Linked DNA regions of Homo sapiens: region 1 is linked to region 2. The links come from fine-mapping of genetic effects on gene expression. A gene starts in region 2. The other region holds a variant in brackets. All regions are shown on one strand. Distances are between the middles of the regions.

What was found. PIP is the estimated chance that this variant, and not a neighbour inherited with it, causes the effect.
Region 1: its variant is the best candidate, but not a certain one, in a credible set for the expression of RNF166 in skin (TwinsUK, PIP 0.73).

What each region holds. Positions count from the first base shown.
Region 1 is chr16:88,726,846-88,729,345 of GRCh38, forward strand. It overlaps PIEZO1 (piezo type mechanosensitive ion channel component 1 (Er blood group)), which reads right to left. Exons shown (of 51, transcript NM_001142864.4): 23 at 712-816; 24 at 194-347; 25 at 1-113. Among named protein-coding and RNA genes, the nearest start is that of HSALR1, 3.1 kb to the right of the region's middle. The variant G/A (reference allele first, on the strand shown) is at 1,060.
Region 2 is chr16:88,704,930-88,707,941 of GRCh38, forward strand. RNF166 (ring finger protein 166) reads right to left here and starts at 1,479. Exons shown (of 6, transcript NM_178841.4): 1 at 1,242-1,479. The coding sequence starts at 1,396. It overlaps CTU2 (cytosolic thiouridylase subunit 2), which reads left to right and starts at 1,574. Exons shown (of 15, transcript NM_001012759.3): 1 at 1,574-1,669; 2 at 2,207-2,281. The coding sequence starts at 1,602. RefSeq lists an enhancer at 954-1,591 and silencers at 1,213-1,492, 1,533-1,842.

The DNA of each region.
Region 1 (2,500 bases), 22 kb after region 2:
GGTAGCCCAGCCCGAAGATGCTGATGCGGGTGGCCCCCGTGACAAACACCACCACCAGCACCAGCCAGAACAGGTATCGGAAGACGGCCACCTTCAGCATGTCAAGGTAGGACCTGCCAGGCCGGAGCGTCAGGGCGGGCGCCCCGGCCACCCCTCCCAGAAGGTTCCCCGTGGAGGGTGACGTGGAACCCACCTGCAGTGGATAAAGTTGGGCACGGGGTTGGGCTCCCCCCGCAGCGGCTCCAGGCGGTCGGTGTTGACGCCAGCCATGCGCTGCCACTCCTCTGTGCGCTCAGCTGAGAACACCTGCCACTGCTGGGAGGCGCACAGCAGCAGGAGAAAGTCGCCTGCAGGACACAGGAGCCGCCGCTGTGCCACACGGGGACCCACACGAGGTGGGCACGGCGCATAAATCCCACCTCCCACCCCAGGCCTGTCGGCGTGCAGCCGCTGGGAGCGGACACACGTCTGCCTGGGTGAGTGGCCGGGTGTCCCTGGGGGAGCCCCGGTGTGAGGGCATCTGCACAAGGGCTGCCGTGCACACAGGCTGAGGTCTGCGTGCGTGCGTGCGAGGTCAGGGCCTGCAGGCCGCCATGTGCCTGACCACACCTCCGCCCGTGCACGCCTGTGTGCACACTTGTGAGCAGATTTGGGGGCGTGAATGTACTCTGAGGGTCCTCTGCAGAGGCGGGGGTGGTGGGGGGCACTCACTGATGAGGTTGGTGGAGTTGGGGGCCCGGAAGAAATCAGGCAGGTACAGCCACTTGATGAGTGCGGAGTTCATGGGGACGGCCCGGCTCCAGCGCCAGGGATAATCTGGGGGAAGGGGTGTCATGTCAGGAAGGGCCGGGCCTGCCTGGGGCCTGAGACACCCGGTCCCCACCCGTTGACCCGAGTCTATCACCAGCCCTCAGGGTCCATGGGAATCACCTCGCGCACACCTGGTGTCTCGAGAACTGACAGCTCTAGTGTCCTGTGTGTTCACACACACAGATTCCTTCAACTCTGCACCAAGCCCCTGGGGGCAAAGGAACTGAGCAGGAGGCCAGAGAGCACGGG[G/A]GTGGGGGCTGCTGGGCCTGAGTTGTGGCCCACACGGCGTCATATTCCATGATAGGACAGTGCGTGTGATAGGACAGCTCTGAAAACAACGGCCAGAAGCTGCACGGACGCCTGCAGCCAGGAAAAGTTCAACCTGCAGCAACCACAGCTGGGAACGCGCTGCTCAGCACGTGGGACCGGGATCCATGCGACAGCCTAGACAGACCTCAGTGTGCTCTGCCAAGTGAAAGAAGCCAGACCTAAAGGCCACCTGCTGGGAGTCCTGCTGACGTGGCGTTCTGATAGGACCACGTGCTGGGGATGGGAGCGGCCGGGGCCTGCTGGGGAGGGAGCCGTGGCACTGCCGGCCCCCGGCCACACTTCCTGGGAGGCGTGTGAGGCAGGGAGGGTCGGTCCCTAAGGACTGAGGGCATGGATGTGACTCCACGCATCTGCGAAACCCACAGCCCCATCTGCCACAGAGGGAACCTCGCGACACAAAAACAAAGTGACCCTCCATGCTGGGGAACCCAGGACATGCTGAACTCACAGCCCCATCTGCCACAGAGGGAACCTCGCGACCCAAAAGCAAAGTGACCCTCGATGCTGGGGAACCCAGGACATGCTGAACCCACAGCCCCATCTGCCACAGAGGGAACCTCGCGACCCAAAAACAAAGTGACCCTCGATGTTGGGGAACCCAGGACATGCTGATCTCACAGCCCCATCTGCCACAGAGGGAACCTCGCGACACAAAAACAAAGTGACCCTCGATGCTGGGGAACCCAGGACATTCTGAACTCACAGCCCCATCTGCCACAGAGGGAACCTCGCGACACAAAAACAAAGTGACCCTCCATGCTGGGGAACCCAGGACATGCTGAACTCACAGCCCCATCTGCCACAGAGGGAACCTCGCGACACAAAAACAAAGTGACCCTCCATGCTGGGGAACCCAGGACATGCTGAACTCACAGCCCCATCTGCCACAGAGGGAACCTTGCGACACAAAAACAAAGTGACCCTCCATGCTGGGGAACCCAGGACATGCTGAACTCACAGCCCCATCTGCCACAGAGGGAACCTCGCGACCCAAAAACAAAGTGACCCTCGATGTTGGGGAACCCAGGACATGCTGAACCCACAGCCCCATCTGCCACAGAGGGAACCTCGTGACCCAAAAACAAAGTGACCCTCGATGCTGGGGAACCCAGGACATGCTGAACCCACAGCCCCATCTGCCACAGAGGGAACCTCGCGACCCAAAAACAAAGTGACCCTCGATGCTGGGGAACCCAGGACATTCTGAACCCACAGCCCCATCTGCCACAGAGGGAACCTCGCGACCCAAAAACAAAGTGACCCTCGATGCTGGGGAACCCAGGACATGCTGAACCCACAGCCCCATCTGCCACAGAGGGAACCTCGCGACCCAAAAACAAAGTGACCCTCGATGCTGGGG
Region 2 (3,012 bases):
CGGTGAGCCGAGATGGCGCCACTGCACTCCAGGCTGGGTGACAAGAGCAAGACTCTGTCTCAAAAAAAAATATTCCCGTTCAGAGGCTGCCCCCCCAAAATGTCACGGCTAAGTGAGATGGAGGAGCAGGGGCAGAGCCTGTAGCAGCCTCACAAGAGAAGTAGGTAGAGCTGTCCCAGCGTGGGCAGGCGCCTGTGCTGCCTGACACAGGTAATGAAGGCAGCTCTGCATCCTGACACTGGCCCTGCCACCTCCGTGGGTGACCAGCACACATCCACCTAGCAGTCCCAGCTCCCTCTGTACCAGGAGCCCCTGAAGTCAGCTGACTTTGCTTGCAAAATGTTCTAGAGCCTCCTACCAGTCTGGGTGCACCCCCCTCCACTCCACCACCTCAGCAGCTTGGATGTCTGCGGGGAAGCCCTCCTGCTCTCTCTCTCCCCTGCCACTGCTGATTTTGCTCAAGAGCTGTATTATTCAGCACTTAGGAGGGAGCAGACACTGATCTAGGCTTCCTCCCAACGGGGCTGGCAGCTCCAGAATACTTGAGCACAGCTCCCCGCCAGGAGAGCCACGTCCTCCAGTTTCTGTTCCTGAAACACCCTGGAGGAGCCGGCTGTGAGCCCTGGTGCAGCTGGAAACCCCAGCAAGGTGGTCAGTGTCTGCTCCTCTGTGGACCAGCCTGCCTGGCTACTCAGTGATCGGTGTGACTCAAGTTCTCCTTCAAACAAAACTAAGAACATCAGACTCCAAACAAGCCCCTCTAAACTTTAGGGAACTCCTTTCCTCTGTAGTCAAAACAGGCAGACAGCGGGTCCGAACAAGAGTTGATAGCAAAAACTACAAGTTATTTATTTACAACTGCCCATTCCAGCCGCACAAGCCCAAATCCACCACCACTGGCGGAGCGGTGGCACCTGCTGCCCTCTGAGTACCGGAGCGCCCGCCGCAGCCGCCGGGGACCCCGAGCTTGGGCAGGGCCGCAGGTCGCCCGGTGAACCGAAGCAGCAGTCGGACCGGGCGCCTGCGGCTGGCGCGAAGGAGGCTGGGCGGGGGATGAACGCGCCCAGAGGGCAGAGGCGGCGCGGCACAGGGAAACCCGGACCCCACGCGCCCCGAGGCCCCGGCGCCCCGAGTCCCCGCGCGCCCAGTCCGGAGCTGCACCGGGGCGGCCGCCGGCCTCGCGACCCCTCCCGCGGCGGGGCACGGCCCCCTCCCCGCGGCCCCTGGGCGGGCGCGCTCACGTGTGGCCGCAGCTGCCGATGGCCACGGGCCGGTGATAGACCTCCAGGCAGATGGGGCAGGTGTACTGCGCCTCCAGGCCGCTGTCGCCGCCCGCCGGCCCGGCCGGCGGCTGCCGCTGCTGAGCCGAGGCCACCAGGCTGCGGAACATAGCCATCCCGGGGCCAGGCCCGCGCCGCCCGCCGCCCGCTGTCCTGGCCCGGGCCGGCCCGCTAGTCACAGCCGCTACTGCGCCGCGCTGACGTCATCGTAGGGCGCCGCCCCCAGCCGGGCTTCGCGGCCGTCACGGCGCCACTCCGACGTCATCGGGGCGCGCCCTCGCGCTGTCGCCGCCACAGTCTGCGACGGGACCCGGCGTGCCCATGTGTCAGGTGGGCGAGGACTACGGGGAGCCGGCGCCTGAGGAGCCGCCCCCGGCGCCGCGGCCCAGGTAAGAGCTGGCGGCCGGACCCGCCAGGCCGCCCCTCGCCTTCCCGCCGCACTCCTGCCCCGAAGGGTCCCGGCCGGGCTTGCTCCGGGAAGCCCCGCGTGGAGAGCGGGACCTCGCTCCCTAGCACTCGGGGAATGCCTGTCAAGCGGTGACGGCCACCTAGAAGGGGACTTACTCCACTGGCTCGCGCCTCTCATCCTAGCAGCCACTGGGGACGGCTCTGCCGCTGACAGTGCTGTCCTTATTCGGAGAGAACTGGTGCCGTGAAGCTGTCTCGCCTCCCCGTGTCAGCCTTGGGAGACTGAAAAGCGGCCTTTATGTGCCCCCTGAGCCGGCTTTTCTAGGCTAAACATCCCCCCAGAGCCTTTGTTTTTCTTGAAGTTTGGACAGAACACAAGCCTGGGTTTGTGTGTGTACCGAGGTGCCTTTCTCTGACCCAACTCAGGGTGAGAAACAGGAGCTGTCTCCCCAAAGCCCACTAGGCGTGGGGAAGATGTGATCTGTGTTTCTCTCTTCTCCCCCCTCCCATCTCCAAAGCCGTGAGCAGAAGTGTGTGAAGTGCAAGGAAGCGCAGCCCGTTGTGGTGATACGAGCCGGAGATGCCTTCTGCAGGTGAGGCCTGGAGGTGGCTGAGACCCTGGCAAACATGGCCTCGCTAGCAGACAGGATAGCCGCAACTTGTGATGCTTTGTTAATTCTTTTTAAAAACATGTACTTACTTTATTCCTGCTCCTGATGGGGTCCCTCGTGCCCCTGGTGTTGAAGTGGAGGCGAAAGCATTGGTTTCCTGCTTGGGAAAGTTTCCCATGAGCTAGCCACAGATCCCCTGATGAGGTTTCTGATGGAACTTATGGGGACAGTTGGAAGTGGGGCCGTGGTGTCTAGACTGGGATAAGCTGTAGGAGGACCAGGCGTTTGGGGGCAGCTGGAATACATCTAGGGGCGGATCAGAGCATCTTGGGAACTTGGCAGATGGTCTGGGTGAAAGTTTTTAATCTCGTGTGAGATGCTTGTTTCATCTGTGGCAGGATAGAGGCTTGGAAGACCTCTAGCTTTCCCCCAGGCGCTTGTCATGTCTTTCTTGGCTTGTAGCCATTGTATTGTTCAGTTGTTTCCACTAGACTCATAGCTCCCTGAAGGGAGGACCAGGTCTCTCTCCTTTTAGCCCTCTTAATTCCCAGTGGTGGTGCGTGGTTTTTTTGTTGTTGTTGTTGTTTTTTTTGAGATGGAGTCTCCCTCTGTCACCCAGGCTGGAGTGCAACAGCTGGAGTGCATGATCCCAGCTCACTGCAACCTTTACCTCCTGGGTTCAAGTGATTCTCCTGCCTCAGCCTCCTGAGTAG